3 linked regions of the Homo sapiens genome follow. The protein of the gene in region 3 interacts with the protein of the main gene of each other region in a biochemical or structural test. Each region holds a gene or a part of one and is shown on either strand. Other genes may lie near its edges.

What was found.
Region 1: the proteins of BFAR (region 3) and NGFR form a complex in vitro, tested with the Homo sapiens proteins (one study listed by BioGRID).
Region 2: the proteins of BFAR (region 3) and PRPF19 form a complex in vitro, tested with the Homo sapiens proteins (one study listed by BioGRID).

What each region holds. Positions count from the first base shown.
Region 1 is NC_000017.11:49,512,293-49,515,508, forward strand, and holds the end of NGFR (tumor necrosis factor receptor superfamily member 16 precursor), read left to right. Parts: intron 1-415; coding exon 416-717; 3' UTR 718-2,716; downstream 2,717-3,216. UniProt on the Homo sapiens protein: Low affinity receptor which can bind to NGF, BDNF, NTF3, and NTF4. Forms a heterodimeric receptor with SORCS2 that binds the precursor forms of NGF, BDNF and NTF3 with high affinity, and has much lower affinity for mature NGF and BDNF.
Region 2 is NC_000011.10:60,896,140-60,903,971, forward strand, and holds part of PRPF19 (pre-mRNA-processing factor 19), read right to left. Parts: intron 7,723-7,832; coding exon 7,573-7,722; intron 7,397-7,572; coding exon 7,320-7,396; intron 6,743-7,319; coding exon 6,601-6,742; intron 6,518-6,600; coding exon 6,444-6,517; intron 6,327-6,443; coding exon 6,264-6,326; intron 5,402-6,263; coding exon 5,360-5,401; intron 5,231-5,359; coding exon 5,156-5,230; intron 4,791-5,155; coding exon 4,715-4,790; intron 4,553-4,714; coding exon 4,443-4,552; intron 3,166-4,442; coding exon 3,010-3,165; intron 2,793-3,009; coding exon 2,723-2,792; intron 2,488-2,722; coding exon 2,402-2,487; intron 2,133-2,401; coding exon 1,962-2,132; intron 1,813-1,961; coding exon 1,707-1,812; intron 1-1,706. UniProt on the Homo sapiens protein: Ubiquitin-protein ligase which is a core component of several complexes mainly involved pre-mRNA splicing and DNA repair. Required for pre-mRNA splicing as component of the spliceosome.
Region 3 is NC_000016.10:14,663,548-14,670,165, forward strand, and holds the end of BFAR (bifunctional apoptosis regulator), read left to right. Parts: intron 1-1,321; coding exon 1,322-1,524; intron 1,525-4,087; coding exon 4,088-4,280; 3' UTR 4,281-5,689; downstream 5,690-6,618. UniProt on the Homo sapiens protein: Membrane-bound E3 ubiquitin ligase that plays a role in several processes including apoptosis regulation or reticulum endoplasmic stress. Has anti-apoptotic activity, both for apoptosis triggered via death-receptors and via mitochondrial factors.

The sequences.
Region 1 (3,216 bases), on a different chromosome or scaffold from region 3:
CCCCTGGGGGCTAATTATTGCCCAAAGTAGCTGCAATTAGCCTCTTGCCCTGGACTTCTGGGGAACAAGTAGTTAAGTGTGTACCCTAATTAGTGGCCCATAGCCCAGCTCCGGGACACTTGCTGTAGTTGTCTAGAACTGAGAAGCCCTATCTCCTCCTCTGCCATGATTAATTGCTGGGGGGGAAGAGAGGAGGGATGGGGATAGGGATTGGGCTGGAGTGACAGGAGGAAGGGACAACGAGTCCCCCCAGGTGCCTTCACTTCCTGGTGCCCCACCCAGGACCTTGTCTTGGCCCCAGGCCTCCAGATGGGGAGGAGCACTGCCTCGGCCCTTCTTGGGTCTCACCCCAGTGCCCACTGTTGGGGAAAGGAGTTCAGGGGTAGGACCTGACTCTCCTCTGGTTTCTCTGCAGCCCTCAAGGGTGACGGAGGCCTCTACAGCAGCCTGCCCCCAGCCAAGCGGGAGGAGGTGGAGAAGCTTCTCAACGGCTCTGCGGGGGACACCTGGCGGCACCTGGCGGGCGAGCTGGGCTACCAGCCCGAGCACATAGACTCCTTTACCCATGAGGCCTGCCCCGTTCGCGCCCTGCTTGCAAGCTGGGCCACCCAGGACAGCGCCACACTGGACGCCCTCCTGGCCGCCCTGCGCCGCATCCAGCGAGCCGACCTCGTGGAGAGTCTGTGCAGTGAGTCCACTGCCACATCCCCGGTGTGAGCCCAACCGGGGAGCCCCCGCCCCGCCCCACATTCCGACAACCGATGCTCCAGCCAACCCCTGTGGAGCCCGCACCCCCACCCTTTGGGGGGGGCCCGCCTGGCAGAACTGAGCTCCTCTGGGCAGGACCTCAGAGTCCAGGCCCCAAAACCACAGCCCTGTCAGTGCAGCCCGTGTGGCCCCTTCACTTCTGACCACACTTCCTGTCCAGAGAGAGAAGTGCCCCTGCTGCCTCCCCAACCCTGCCCCTGCCCCGTCACCATCTCAGGCCACCTGCCCCCTTCTCCCACACTGCTAGGTGGGCCAGCCCCTCCCACCACAGCAGGTGTCATATATGGGGGGCCAACACCAGGGATGGTACTAGGGGGAAGTGACAAGGCCCCAGAGACTCAGAGGGAGGAATCGAGGAACCAGAGCCATGGACTCTACACTGTGAACTTGGGGAACAAGGGTGGCATCCCAGTGGCCTCAACCCTCCCTCAGCCCCTCTTGCCCCCCACCCCAGCCTAAGATGAAGAGGATCGGAGGCTTGTCAGAGCTGGGAGGGGTTTTCGAAGCTCAGCCCACCCCCCTCATTTTGGATATAGGTCAGTGAGGCCCAGGGAGAGGCCATGATTCGCCCAAAGCCAGACAGCAACGGGGAGGCCAAGTGCAGGCTGGCACCGCCTTCTCTAAATGAGGGGCCTCAGGTTTGCCTGAGGGCGAGGGGAGGGTGGCAGGTGACCTTCTGGGAAATGGCTTGAAGCCAAGTCAGCTTTGCCTTCCACGCTGTCTCCAGACCCCCACCCCTTCCCCACTGCCTGCCCACCCGTGGAGATGGGATGCTTGCCTAGGGCCTGGTCCATGATGGAGTCAGGTTTGGGGTTCGTGGAAAGGGTGCTGCTTCCCTCTGCCTGTCCCTCTCAGGCATGCCTGTGTGACATCAGTGGCATGGCTCCAGTCTGCTGCCCTCCATCCCGACATGGACCCGGAGCTAACACTGGCCCCTAGAATCAGCCTAGGGGTCAGGGACCAAGGACCCCTCACCTTGCAACACACAGACACACGCACACACACACACAGGAGGAGAAATCTCACTTTTCTCCATGAGTTTTTTCTCTTGGGCTGAGACTGGATACTGCCCGGGGCAGCTGCCAGAGAAGCATCGGAGGGAATTGAGGTCTGCTCGGCCGTCTTCACTCGCCCCCGGGTTTGGCGGGCCAAGGACTGCCGACCGAGGCTGGAGCTGGCGTCTGTCTTCAAGGGCTTACACGTGGAGGAATGCTCCCCCATCCTCCCCTTCCCTGCAAACATGGGGTTGGCTGGGCCCAGAAGGTTGTGATGAAGAAAAGTGGGCCAGTGTGGGAATGCGGCAAGAAGGAATTGACTTCGACTGTGACCTGTGGGGATTTCTCCCAGCTCTAGACAACCCTGCAAAGGACTGTTTTTTCCTGAGCTTGGCCAGAAGGGGGCCATGAGGCCTCAGTGGACTTTCCACCCCCTCCCTGGCCTGTTCTGTTTTGCCTGAAGTTGGAGTGAGTGTGGCTCCCCTCTATTTAGCATGACAAGCCCCAGGCAGGCTGTGCGCTGACAACCACCGCTCCCCAGCCCAGGGTTCCCCCAGCCCTGTGGAAGGGACTAGGAGCACTGTAGTAAATGGCAATTCTTTGACCTCAACCTGTGATGAGGGGAGGAAACTCACCTGCTGGCCCCTCACCTGGGCACCTGGGGAGTGGGACAGAGTCTGGGTGTATTTATTTTCCTCCCCAGCAGGTGGGGAGGGGGTTTGGGGGCTTGCAAGTATGTTTTAGCATGTGTTTGGTTCTGGGGCCCCTTTTTACTCCCCTTGAGCTGAGATGGAACCCTTTTGGCCCCCGAGCTGGGGGCCATGAGCTCCAGACCCCCAGCAACCCTCCTATCACCTCCCCTCCTTGCCTCCTGTGTAATCATTTCTTGGGCCCTCCTGAAACTTACACACAAAACGTTAAGTGATGAACATTAAATAGCAAAGAAAGAAAAATAGTACAAAGAGATTTTCTGGAAATACACATGGTTTGAATTGTTTGGGATTGGGTGTGTGGCAGGGACCCAGGTATAATTTCCAATTCGGTCAATTCCTGCCCTCTTTTCCCCCACACCAAAAGGGGAAGTTTTAACAGAAATCCAGTAAGTTCCCATGTATCACTATGGGGTGAGGTGGGGAAGGAGAAGGGGCCCTTTGCTCCCAGATCTTGGAGAGGGAAAGTGAAAATGGCCACGCAGGAAGCTAGCCAGCTGTGAACTTGACCAGATGTCAGAAGTGAAACTGACCACAGGCAAGTCAGAGGCTCGCCAGGAGGGCCAGGTCACAACCCCACAGCTCCCAGCCACCCACGTGGCCTGGGAGACACACACACACACATACACACCACAGAGAGAGAGAGAGAGAATCTGGCTCCAGATGGCCTAGCAGGAGGCATTCGGCAGGCCTGGCCTGGAGTTAGGCAGGCAGGCCCCTCCCTTGTAGCTCTCGTGGGCAGG
Region 2 (7,832 bases), on a different chromosome or scaffold from region 3:
TAAAATACAATAAAGCTAAGTGCAATAAGACAAGGTATGCCTATACTATACTTTTTTTGGTATTAAATATACTCTTCCCACTTATAAAAAAAAGTTAACTGTAAAACAGCACCAAGCAGGCCCTTTCAGGAGGTATCCGAGAAGAAGGCATTATCATCATAGGAGATGACAGGTTTATGCATGTTGGTGCCCCCGAAGACCTTCCGGTGGGAAAAGATGTGGAGGTAGAAGACAGTGATGTTGGTGCTATGGTTAGGCTTTGTGCCGCCACCCAAATCTCATCTTGAATTGTAGTGCCCATAATCCCCACGTGTTGTGGGAGGGAGCCAGTGGGAAGTAACTGAATCATGGGGGTGGTTACCCCCATGCTGTTCTCATGATAGTGAGTTCTCACGAGATCTGATGGTTTTATGAGGGGCTTTAGCCCCTTTGCTCAGCATTTGTCTCTCCTGTTGCCATGTAAAGAAAGACATGTTTGCTTTCCCTGCTGCTATGACTGTAAGTTTCCTGAGGCCTCCCGAGTCACTGTGAGTCAATTAAACCTCTTTCCCTTATCAATTACCCAGGCAGTTCTTCATAGCAGTGTGAGAACGGACTAATACAGTTGGTGATCCTGATCCTGTGTAGGCCTAGGGTAATGTGTGCTTGTGTCTTAGTTTTTAACAAGAAAAGTTTAAAAAGTAAAAAATAAAAATAAAAAAATTAGAAAAAAGCTTATAGAACAAGGATGTAAAGAGAGACAATATTTTTGTACAGCTGTACAATGTGTTTTAGTTTTAAGTTAAATGTTATTACAAAAGAATCCATTTTTTTAAGTTTATAAAGTAAAAGTCAGCTAAGGCTTATTACTGAAGAAAAAGTTTTTTATGAATTTAGTAAAACCTAAGTGTACTGTGTTTATAAAGTCTACAGCAGCGTACAGTAATGTCCTAGGCCTTCACATTCACTCACAACTCACTCACTGAAAGCAACTTCCAGTCCTGCAAGCTCCTTTCATGGCAAGCACTATACCAGTGTACCATTTTAAAAAAATCTCTTATACCTTATTTTTACTGAACCTTTTCTATGTTTACACTTGTTTAGATACACAAATACTTACCATTGTGTTATAATTGTATTCACTACATTTAATATGCTGTACCGGTTTGTAGCCTAGGAGCAATAATAGACTATACTAAGGTTATAGCAATAGTCTTGGCGTGTAGTAGGCTACACCATTTAGATATATGTAAGTTCACTCTACAATGGTCGCACATGACGATATCACCTAACAAGACATTTCTCAGAACATATCCCCATTATTAAGTGATATATAAACTGTATAAGCTTCAATCATCTGACCCTTCTGCAGATCTAATATAATGTGGGCCTCCCGTGCATATGCACGTAATTAAAATGGCTCTCCTCCTGTCACTGTCTAATGTTCATTTATTTTAGATTCAGTTATCAAAACTTCAGAGGGACTTTTCTCTCCCTTTAGTAACCTGCCCAATGCCACAGGGCATGGAAGTGGCAGAACAAGCACTAGCATCTACTGCCATGCAGTCTGACTCAGTTGCTTCCTTAGTCATAAAGCTCTGCCTCAGGTGGTAACAGAAAGCTGCTTAGGTAAATTCATGCAAGCCCTAGAAATTCCTAACCCAGTGAGGCTTCCCTCCGGGCCTGGGCACCTAGAGAGATCCCAGGAGCCCAGGACCAGCCTCTACCTGTAAAGTGAAGAATCTCCGTCCATTGTTTGCAGATGTAGATCTGGACATCCGTGCCCCCAAGAGCCAGGTAGGTACCACTCTGGTCAAAGATCAGTGACTTTACCTGCCAGAAATAGAAAGAGAGAAGGTCACACAAGGGGAACAGAAACTATGGGGCAGTTGCGGATAAGCAGAAGCAATTAGATTAATTCAATAAATAATTGACAAACAAGGAGACACAATGGAAAGCTGGGCGGAGGGGGAAGGGCACACCTCAAAGTTGTTATCCAGCTGCAAAGTCTTAAAGTTCTTAAGCTTGCGCAGATCCCAGAGCTTGACAGAGGAGTCATCAGCCGCTGTAGCCAGGTAGTAACCATTCTCAGAGAAGGCGATGCTAGTGATGGGGCCCGAGTGGCCAGGGAAGTTGGCCACATTAGTACGTTCCTACAGTGGCGGTGGGTAGTAAAATACGTCACCCACAGATCATGAGAGGAAGAAAATGGGGCTCACCAAACTCCTACCTGAGATGTCCCTCACGTCCTTCCAGGAAGGACAGCCAGCGGGACCCCCCAGACCACACCATCATATCACACACGCACAGCCAGTGTCTCTCCACCTTCAGGGCCAGGTGCCACAAGCACCTAATTAGCACTGCATTGTCACAAACACTCCCTCTGGCCCTGGGCCTCAGATGGAGGCCTACCATGTCCTACCTTCAAGTCCCAGATCTTGATCTGAGAGTCCATGGTTCCTGTTCCAAAGATGAGTCCGTCAGGGTGGAACTGTGCACAGGTGAGAGCTGTGGAGGAGGGAAGAGAGACCTGTGGTCAGAGCCCACCAGGGAGAGAGACTAAGAGCAGCAAAGGTAGGTTCCTTGTTCTTCACATTCCTCAGTGAACCCAGCACAAAGCCCGCACTAGACAGGTGCTCATGGTAAATATATCTTTAGAACAAATAAACAAATGACTAAATAAAATGTAAAAATAAATAATAAACAGCAAACAAAAAAGCTGAGTGCCTATGAGGCAACTTACAGCAGCCGGAGGTCTCATCTGTCACCTTGGTGAGCACACGCCCTGTCTGGATGTCAGAGAAAGCCCAGTACTGGGGAAAAAAAAAGAGACAATGGAGTCAGTGAGAAAGTGGGTCCCAGGTTCTGGTGGCCCTTCAGCAAGACAGAGCCCCTGGTTTGGCAAACCCTGGCAAACATTCTCCTTTGAGGTTCTGGGGAACCAGCTGGGGTGGGAAGATGTTCCTGCCACCCAGGATGTTCAAGCTTGGGGACCAGCAGGCCTCTCCAGGGCACTGGCTGGGACCGCACCTGATCATCGGAGGAGCTCAGGAGATAGTCGCCAGTGGCATGAAGGCTGAGGCCTGTCACAGCACTCTCATGGGCCCGAACCACCTGTACACAAGAGGCATTGGGGACCGACCAAATCCTGATAGTGGCATCGGGGGAAGCAGAAAACACCAGGTCCTACAAGGAAAACAAAGACAGAATATCAGAGTCAGAAAAGAGATACAGACCAAAACAATCTTATAAAACGGGGCTGGGGATGCCCACAACTGCCAACAATTGCTTCTCCTTTCAGCTCTGCCCTCCCTGGAACCACCTATCCACCCAATGGTGCCCAAGACAGCCAATGGTAAACGCTATTAAAGTGCTAACTCATACAGCATCAGGGCTTGTGGAGGCGTCCTCGCCATCTAGTGGTAAAAAGGCTAACTGCAACAGAGAGCAATTTTCCCATTTCCAGGACCAAAGGAAAAATGTAGCTAGTACAATTGAGGGACTGAATTTTTTATTCTATTTCATTGAAATTTAAATAGCCACATGCAGCTAACTGCTACTGTACTGTATGGCACAGGTCTGAGCAGTACTGGGACTGGAAGGGGCTGCATGGCTGTATTTCAGTGCATTCCACTTTTATGGATTTCCAGGGTAAGTTAATTTTCCAAAAGATTTGGGGCAGGGAGAGAATTTCGCGTCACTCACCAATTTTTTGTTTAGTTAGGATATTAAAAGCCATAAGGTAAAAATAACTACCATCTTTTTTTATCAATACAATTTCATGAGACCTAACTATTAATACCCCATAAGCAAGAAAACAGTGCTCTCAATTTGAACAAATTTAGTCATGAAAAATTCACCATGTTATTCTTATATTTCTCATTTCCCTAAGGTCCAAGGGAAATCTTGACTGCGAAGCACTAAACCAACCATGTCCTGCAGCCCCAAACCCAAACTGTCTTAGGCTTAAAATTCGAATCCCATAATATCATTAATCTGGTCCCATGAGTTACCTTTACCCTGTAAACCAGAGGTTCTGTTTACAACCTACACCACTTTCAACAGTCAACATGATTTTTACCCATCTTGGAGGATCATGGGAAAGCAGATATATCTGTCCTCCTCGTAAGTGTGAGTTGAGATTGTGTTGAGCTTTGTTTTCTGTAGTTTATATTAGGAACACTATAAGATTTTTTCTTTCCCTAATATGAAATATTTCAATGAATATGCTTGTCAAACTACACATTTCCGTTCTCTCCCTGGCTGGAAGATCACTGCTTTAGAAGGTCTCACGCAGAGTGAAGGGCAATCTCCACAACTCCAAAGTGAGCCCCTCCAAGTGCCCACTCAGGAGTCAGAGTCAGAGCTCTTTCCCAGCCCCACTTCACAGAGACAGCAGCGGGGTGAGGGACAAACAACAGCCAAGGAAAGAAGAACCAAGGGTGGCGAGGAGAACCCCTTACCTGGGAAGGGTGAAACACCACGCTGGTGACCTTCTTGGTATGGCCTTTGAGGGTAGCCAGGATTTGTTCAGAACTTTTGTCAAACACAACGACATTTTTATCCGCCCCACCTGGAGAAGACCCAAAAAGACCAAACAATGAGTCAGGCCCACCCAGGCCCTTTTGCTCAAGGAAATGCTTTTGTTCCCATGCCCATGAAGAGGACAAGGAGCATGCGCCTTCCCTGCTGCCCCTCCCCACTTTGGCCTGCCGGGCTAGGCCCAGACTCTCACCAGTGAGGATCTTGTTGGTGTCGGACGGGCAGAGGTCCAGGGCCAGGATCCCAGGAATGCTGGCACTGTGCAACCCCTTTGCAGAGAGACACACCAAACCCTGTCACGGCCAAATCACAGCAGGCCACAAAGCCACAGACCTCCCCTACTGCCATCTCCAGTCACCCATGTTCTCAGGGGAGCAAGAGTTACTTCTATTCCTTATCCATACCTCTTGGCTATCTGCCTGGTACGGTAACTCCCTCACTGCATCACTAGGAAACCCACAGCTGGGCAGAAAGAGGAGCCCTGACAACTCAGCAGCCCAGGCGAGAAACAGCACCAGGAACAGCGCCAGGAACCTGGGACAGCTCTGCACTCAGCACTCCCCATGCTGGCCCGCCCACCCCAGAAACAAAACGGGAGGGCTGTCTCCAAGACAGTGGAGACCCAGACACTCACCACGTGGGATGCCACCTGCCGGTATTTGCTGAGCTCTTCTGGCTTCACCAGCTCCTCAGGCACAGTCTTCCCTCTCTGAGAAAATGAAAAGCCCCCAAAGAAGAGCAGCAATGAATCCAAGATTCAGCCGCCCTCTCTCTCCTAAGGAGTCAACCGCCTCCCACCAGGCCAGCTCTTTCTCCAGGCTTCAGAAAGAGAACTCACCTTCTTGCGCTCCGTGGTTAGCACAGTGGCTTTGTCTTGAAGCTGGGGAAGAACAGGCTCAATGTGAGACAAATCATCTTGCAAGGAGAAAAGTACATTAGATGCTGGTCACACCTGTGCTTTCAAAAGCAGCACCAAGAACTTGCTATCTGCCAACTTCTACGTTACAGGCTTAAAGGCATTCTCTCTTCTTACTTCCATCCCAGCTTTATGAGGGGGGTGTTGATGACCTTATTTTACAGCTGAGGAAACTGAGCCTCAGAGAAGTGAAGTCAATTGCCCAAGGTCGCAGAGGTGATAAACAGCAGAGCAAGAATAGAAGCTAGGACTGTAGAGCTCCCATAGGTCTACACGCCACTAAGCCAAGGGCTCAGACACATGCTGACAATTTGAACTGCTCAGAAAGACACTAAGAAGCCCTGCAAATGAGAATCCCACTGGACTTGCAATCAGGAAGCCCAGCTCTGCCTCTCAGATGTGTCTTTCATCTGCAAAATAAGGATTATAATTCCTATCCTATTGCCCTCATAGAAAAAAAACAAGAAAATATATAAAAGTAGTTTACTATCTGCAAAGAATCTCAATAACAATAAGAGCTAAAAGGTGCACTTATCAGTAATGAAATCTTTTAAATTCCCACAGCCTGCCTATACAGTGGATATGATCATATTCTCAGTTTAGAAGCTAGGGAAATGAGACACGTAAGGGTTGGCTAAGTAAGCCAAGGTCATAAAGCTTACAAGTAGTGGCATCAAAATACAAACCCAGGCAATCTGGTCCCAGGGTCCATGCTCTGCACCACTCAACTCCCAAAAGCACAGTGATTTTAGTCACGATGGACTCCAGACAGATGGTGAAAAGTAAGGGCCCATCAGCACTCCCACCAGGTGAGAGCAGGACTTACCTTCTGAATAATCTCTGGGGTCATTCCCACCAGCTCACCCAAATCCATTGGCTCACCCGCACCCTGAAGAGAAGAAAGGTGAGGGTGAGAGGCACAGAGCACCAAAGACACCTGCATAAGGACAGTTCTGTGGGCCACTGTACACAAATGGGCTGCTGGTAAGGGAAGGGGGACACTTACCACAACACTTGGTTGGGAACTTGGCACAGCCTGGGGCACAATGAGGCCAGCCTGTGGTTTCAGGGTAGCCAGAGCTGAGAGAAAAGACGATGTTAGAAATGGGATATTACAATGCAGAACCAGCCCAGGGTGGGGGATGGCAGGGGAGAGGCTGCACCTTCTCGGGCAGCAGTGACTTCCTTGGTGAGACGGGCAATGACACGGCAGGCGGCATCGTGCTGGTACAGAGCGTGTGACAGCTCTTGGCGGGTTGTCTGCAGCTGCTGGCGCAGAGTGAAGCTGTGCAGCATGACTGCATCCTGGGAGAAGCAAATATCATTGTAAGGTGAGGTGGGGGGTGCAGGGAGTACCCAGTGGAGTCAGCCCTTGGGGAGGGGATGCTGCCTCCTATCCCAGAGCCTAGACCAGTATCAGTGACCCAAACAATATCCGAGCAAACACGAATGTGCCGGCAGACACTCTTGAGCTCCTACCCCAAGCGAACCACTGGGCACACAGACAGGAGTGGGAGCCAGCTCTTTCCCATCCCCACCTTCCCTAACTTACTGGCAAATCCCAGCTGTCATGCCGTCCCCTCTCTAAAAGAGAATAACAACACTGCTGCTGCTGCTATTTATTGATCGCCCTCGTTGTGTCAGGCACTGTGCCAGACAGTCCTGCAGGATGTATTCAATCATTCAATTCATAACTCTAGAGCACCTACTATGTACCAGGTGCTGCTCTCAGTGCTGGGGATACAACGAAGAATAAAACAAATCCCTGATGTCACAAAGTTTACCCTCTAAATAATGCTCCATCCTTCCTACCCCCAAGTCCTAACCCAGCAATGCATTCTCTTCAAGTGGGGAAGATGCTGATTCTCTTGCAGGAACTCACCCACTCATCCTGCAAAGCTTTCAGAATGGCCGGGATGCTGGTGGCTGAGGGAGGCTTGGGCCGGATTGGGTGAGCAACTGCCGAAAGGGAAAGCAGGTATGAAGAACATAACCCAGGGGCCTCCCCCGCCATCACATCTTTTCCTTTTAGCCATAAACAGCCCACCATCTCTTCCTCCAGTGCACTGGCACCACCTCCCATCCTCTCAGGCTCTGAGCTAAGATGGCCCTAGACTAAGGCAGCCAATAGGCACCTTTGATGTCGATGAGCTGCTCCTCGGAGAGAGGCTGGTTGTTGATGGGGTCGGTACCATTCTCCGCAATGTACTTCTCGATGAGCCGCCGCTCATAAACATGATTAGAGACAGGGGATACACATGGGTGCTCCGGCACTTCGTTAGAGACTGTAGAGAAAAGGCTGGTAGTGAGCTTGGAGTGAAGGCAATCTTGGGCCTAGAGGATTCCTCATCTGCTATTAGCCCCAACAAGACTAGGCATCCTCACACTCAACTAG
Region 3 (6,618 bases):
GTCTTGATCTCCTGACCTCGTAATCCGCCCTCCTCAGCCTCCCAAAGTGCTGGGATTACAGGCGTGAGCCACTGTACCTGGCCATCATCAGGCTAATTTTTTATCTGCTAATATGTGTAATTGAAAAGCTTCTCCTCCTGCCATCACAAAAAAAATTACCTTTTTTTGGAGGGAGGAGGGAGTGTTTGTAATTTTCCCAGAAACTACCATTATTCTACCATAGCCAATGTTGAATTTAGGAAATGGTTCAAGCTACCATTTGGGTAGCTTGATGGGAGAATAACTGGTTAATTTAAATTTATTTCAATGTATTCATAATTCATGCTTTTTTTTTTCTGAGCTTCCACAATTATATGACAAGCATTTCATTTCAACCTTTTTGCTAACATTTACTTAATTTGAGATTAATTACGGCCGGGTGCGGTGGTTCACTCCTATAATCCAAGCACTTTGGGAGGCAGAGGCGGGCAAATCACCTGAGGTCAGGAGTTTCAAGACCAGCCTGGCCAACATGGCAAAACCTCGTCTCTACTAAAAATACAAAAATTAGCCGGGCGTGGTGGTATACACCTTTAATCCCAGAAGCACTGTCTGTGTCTTGGATGGTAGCGAGACAAGATGGTGGATCCCCAGACTCAGGGCTTGTATACATAGGGAAGGGGCATACATGCTTCAGAAGGGATGTGCAGAACAATTGCTTAGGGTCGGGATTTATGGTAAGTACGAGAACATACTCAGGAGGCTGAGACAGGAGAATCACTTGAACCCAGGAGGTGGAGGCTGCAGTGAGCCGAGATGGCACCACTGCATTCCAGCCTGGGTAACAGATCAAGACTCCGTCTCAAAAAAAAAAAAAAAAAAAACAATTACAAGATGAGTTGATGGATGGAAATTTCATTTTAGATTGTTGGATGTGTGTGTGTGTGTGGTAATCAATGTAGAACTCACTGTGATCATCACAATTTTTTTTGAGACACAGTCTCCCTCTATCACCCAGGGTGAAGTGCAGTGGTGCGATCTCAACTCACTGCAACCTGCACATCCCGGGTTCAAGTGATTCTCTTGCCTCAGCCTCTAGAGTAGTTGGGATTACAGGCACACACCACCACGTCTGGCCAATTTTTGAATTTTTAGTAGAGATGGGGTTTCACCATGTTGGCCAGCCTGGTCTTGAACTCCTTACCTCAGGTGATCCGCCCACCTAGGCCTCCCAAAGTGGTGGGATTACAGGTGTGAGCCACCGTGCCTAGCCTGATCATCACAATATTTTGTGTAAAAGTCAGTCCTCATGACTTTTTGCGTCTGTGTGTTATTTTTTAAGGATCTTAAGGAGCCTACGTGGAAGCAGTGGAGAGAGTTCCTGGTCAAATACTCCTTCCTTCCATACCAGCTGATTGCTGAGTTTGCTTGGGACTGGTTGGAGGTCCATTACTGGACATCACGGTTTCTCATCATCAATGCTATGTTACTCTCAGTTCTGGAATTATTCTCCTTTTGGAGAATCTGGTCGAGAAGTGAACTGAAGTAAGTATGTTTTAATGGTTGTCACAACAGGGGATGGGAAAGAAATACCAAGTGAGAGAAAGATCCTCTTTTATTTCTCACACTTGAAATAAATCCTCCATCCACCCAGACCCTTCAGACTCTGCTTTGAGAAACCTAGCTTAAGCAGTGAATAGGACAATTACCTGTGTTTTGGGGGTGGGGGTTGTGGTGCTCATTGTTAAAAGTATTTTCCTATATGTCTTATCTCTATGCAATAATATACCATTTAATTTCAGGGGGAGGGGGGCAAAGGATTGTAATAATCAAGGAATAAGCAACTGAATAGAAAAGGGTCTGTTTTAAGGTAGGCAGGCCTGTGCAAACCTATCCCCTAAATCAGAGGAAGCTGAGGGGCTGAAGGAAGAAGCTGGCAAATTCAGTTTCTCAGAAAGAAACACTTAATAAGGCCTTGCCAACAGAAGCCCTGTCTGTGTCTTGGATGGTAGCGAGACAAGATGGTGGATCCCCAGACTCAGGGCTTGTATACATAGGGAAGGGGCATACATGCTTCAGAAGGGATGTGCAGAACAATTGCTTAGGGTCGGGATCTATGGTAAGTAAGAGAACATCAAGGCTGTTTCACCAAAGGGCAGGATTTACGTGATGTACGTGCTCTTACACAAGAAACATTAGATAAAACCAGAGATCTTAGAGGCTTCCCCCAAACCGGAGTTAGTGAGAAGTCAATATGGCAGATTAGCATCCAATATAGAGTTGCTTTGGCCTCCACAGGGTGCTTTATAGAAAATGCAGTAAGGTAGAGCATAAAGAGATCTCATGGGAAATTCTGTAGGCATGAGTTCTAATCCTGATCTGTAACCAACTAGGATAATAATAACTTAGGCTTCAAGCATGACTGGACCCTGAGACCCAAACGCTGTCACCAGTACTGACTCTTTCTCTGTCCCTCACAGCACTGTTCTTTCTTGTGTTTTCTGCCTCAGGCATCTCTCTTCATGTGGGGGCCCTTGTCTTCTCCACTCCAGACTTTGATCTGTGCAGCTTAACAAACCTCCAGAAAGAAAGCACTTCCTTCCCTGTGGCACTGGAAAAGGTCTCAGGGCTCACATGCCTTTGTTCTGATGGACCCAGGCTTGAGGCATGAGTTCACCCCACAACCAGAGGCTGGTTTCAGCCCTACCCAGACCACATGGAAAAGAACAAAGGAGAGAGAATCCCCAAAACTTAGAGGCTGTTGCCAGGTGCAGTGGTTCATGCCTGTAATCCTAGAACTTTGGGAGGCCAAGGCAGGTGGATCACCTGAGGTCAGGAGTTCGAGACCAGCCTGGCCAACATAGTGAAACCTCATCTCTACCAAAAATACAAAAATTAGCCAGGCGTGGCGGTGGGTGCCTGTAATCCCAGCTACTCGGGAGGCTGAGGCAGGAGGATCGCTTGAACTCAGAGAGGTGGAGGTTGCAGTGAGCTAAGATTGCACCATTGCACTCCACCCTGGGCGACAAAACGAGAGTCCATCTCAAAAAACCCCCAAAAACTTAGAAGCTATTTCCAGAAGAAAGGGACAGGCAGAAGTAACACTGCCACCCTTGCAGCCTTTTACCTTGACATTCTGACTCGCAGCCTTATGAATGGTTCTGAGAACCTAACAATCTCCCTCACCTTTCCAATGGTGACTCACTAGGTAAAAATAAAAAAAGAATCTCCCTCATTTCTTTCCATTTAGCAAACTCACTTATTTATATACAATATGCATATTTATGCCCCTACTGTACTCCTGGTTCTCTCCTGGGCATGGCAGATCTTTTGGTAAAGAAGACAGTCTATAGTGTGAGGCCCTACAGCCTAGCAAAGAAAATATGTACGTTAAAAAATAGATGGTCAGGCACCTTGGCTCATGCCTGTAATCCCAGCACTTTGGGAGGTGAGAGGATTGCTTGAGACCAGGAGTTCAAGTGCAGCCTGGGCAACGTGGCAAAACCTGTCTCTAAAAATACAAAAAATTAACTGGGCGTGGTGGTGCACACCTGTAGTCCCAGCTACTCGGGAGGTTGAGGTGGAGGATCACCTGAGCCGAGGAGTTTGAGACCAGCCTGGGTAACATAGCGAGACCTTGTCCCTACTTAAAATAATAATAATAATAATAATAATAATTAGCCAGATGTGGTGATGTGTGCCTGTGGTCCCAGCTACTCAGGAGGATCACTTGAGACCTGGAGGTCAAGGCTGCAGTTGAGCCACATTTGCACCACTGCACTCCCAGGCTGGACAAAGGAATGAGACCCTGTCTCAAAAGGAAAAAAAAATATGTAAATGTAACAAAGTGATGAAGCAGGTGAAGTTGAGGCTGTCACAGGGAGGCCTTGCCCAGTGTGGGGGCAAAGAAGCTCCCTGTAGGTCATGTCCTTGAGAGTTAAAAGATGGGTTGAGTAGGCAGAGGTCTCAGGCACCGGGGACAGAAGACAAGGACATTCAGCACGGGCAGCCATGCTCTTCCCAGCACCCAGAAAAGGCCCAGGGCCCGGACTCCTGGGTGTGGTCATGAGAAGCGCCTCCGATTCAGCCTCTTCTCTTCTTGTTTCAGGACCGTGCCTCAGAGGATGTGGAGCCATTTCTGGAAAGTATCAACGCAGGGGCTTTTTGTGGCCATGTTCTGGCCCCTCATCCCTCAGTTTGTTTGCAACTGTTTGTTTTACTGGGCCCTGTACTTTAACCCAATTATTAACATTGATCTTGTGGTCAAGGAACTCCGGCGGCTGGAAACCCAGGTGTTGTGACTGGCACTGCCCAGGCTGAGACTCTTCAAGTCCCGCTGACGTCTGAGCTTTGATGCTTAAGAGGGGTGAGGCAGGGAGCGGACTTCCTATTTTCTACCCTCAGTAAAACAAGGTGCTGCTTTGTATATCAAAAGCTCCAACCATGTCCTCTCCCCCTCAGCCTGTGGGTGGCACGAGCAAGGACTGACATCCGCACAGGGAGGATTGTCTGTTTGGCTGACACAGCAGCAGCCCTTCCCACCCAGCCACCTTCCTCACAGGGACTAGGAGGCTCAGTCCCCAACGGCTGGCAAGACTCAGGGTCCTCAGTGGACATGGTGTGGGTGACATCAGAAGGGTGCCACATCAGTCCCCTCCCCAACCTCAGTGACTGACAGAGGATCCGGATCTCAGAGCCTGAGACCAGGTTTATTGGGGCCTGGCCTGTCCTCTAAGTCAAGTTTAGGAAAACAAGGATAAGATTCTGTCATAGGCATAGAGAGTTGCACATAAAAAATACCGAAGAAAACCCAAAATTCAATCAACAATTCTGTCTTATTGAAGAGTTGCTAGGATTCAGAGTAAAACTCAAAGGATTCAGTTTGAGCCTAGAATGATGGTTAGACTTGTAGTCACTGGGCTTTTGTTTTGCTTTATGGAAATCATTGAAGGTCTGGATCCCTTTCTCTGAATGGAGAGATTGAGAGGGATGTCGGGCAGTTCCCATTAGATTTAGTGGCCTTCATGTTATTCAGAATTGTTTTGGTGATACCTCACCCCTGTAATCCCAGCACTTTGGGTGGGTGAGGCAGGCGGATCACTTGAAGCCAGGACTTCAAGACCAGCTTGGCCAACATGGTGAAACCTCATCTCTACTAAAAATACAAAAATTAGCCAAGTGTGATGGCACATACCTGTAATCCCAGCTACTTGGAATTGGAAATCGCCTGAACCCAGGAGGCGGAGGTTGCAGGGAGGGAGACTGCACCACTGCACTTCAGCCTGGGTGACAGAGGGAGACTCTGTCTTAAAAAAAAAAAAAAAATCATCTGTAAAATAAATTCCGGGATAGTCGTTTTGTTCAAGGAAATGTTTTGTAAATTGAGCTCACACTATATAATCTTTATTGTCCTATCCTGATGTATAATACAGCAGGTATAATTACACCAAGCGCTATAGTTATAAATATGGCATGAAGTGAACTATGGCCTTTTATTTCCTTCCAGTGTGAACACAGCAGGTGTGAGATGTCATCTTGGAAGACAGGCCTTGCAGAAATAGGCCTACATCCAAAATATTATCTTGTGACTCCATGAACCATTCATTAACCCTTTGTATCTTTGAGTGAAAATTTTACTCAAAAGTTGCATCTGGAAGTTCGAAGAAATTACTTGAAATAAAAATAAAGATTTCTATATAGATAAAACCTATATGTAGAGAAAAAGCAATTGTCTAGAAAACACAAAACTTCTGCATTGCCGGATAGAATCTTCTAGCCATGGGCCGAGCGTGGTGGTTCGCGCCTGTAATCCCGGCACTTTGGGAGGCCAAGGTGGATGGATCACTTGAGGTCAGGAGTTCAAGACCAGCCTGACGAACATGGTGAAACCCCGTCTCTACTGAAAATACAAAAATTAGCCAGGCACGGTGGTGCGCACCTGTAGTCCCAGCTACTTGGGAGGCTGAGGCAGGAGAATCACTTGAACCCAGGAGGCAGAAGTTGCATTGAGCCAAGATCATGCCACTGCACTCCATCTGGGTGACTGAGCAAGATTCCGTCTCAAAAAAAAAAAAGTCATCTAGTCAGTCTAGTCATGCTTAAATCCCCCAGCCTGACGCAGATACTGAGCCGAGGAGCCACCCTAAGGGAAAATGGGTTTTTTCCTGCTCGTGTTTGCACATCAAGCCCCAGGGTTGCTTGACTTTACCTATTTAATGCTTGTGACCTCCCATGGACACTCACATGGCAGTGTTTGCATATCCCTGGTCTCATGCCACCCAGGGGTTGCCAGTATCCTTTACAGGTGAATAGATGGAGGATGGCTGGCAAAACACCAAGTTGGCGCTGGCTGGCTTTGGCAGAGCTGGGCCTGGGCCATCCACCTCCACCCCATGGCCTCTCACATTGTCGCCACCTGCTCCCACACCCTGCTTCAAAGATGAGTAATACCCAGATTTGCTCAGGGACTGGGGCAAAGCCATGGCGTAGAGCAAACAGGCTGGGCAGGACCTTACTCCTTATCACCAGCAGGAGGGACGGGCACACTCAGATCAGGGGCCACAGGCTGCCTCTACCTCTTCTTACCAATCATAGCAGGATGGGTACATCTAAAGGGGGTGTCTTAAAATAGTCCAGGCT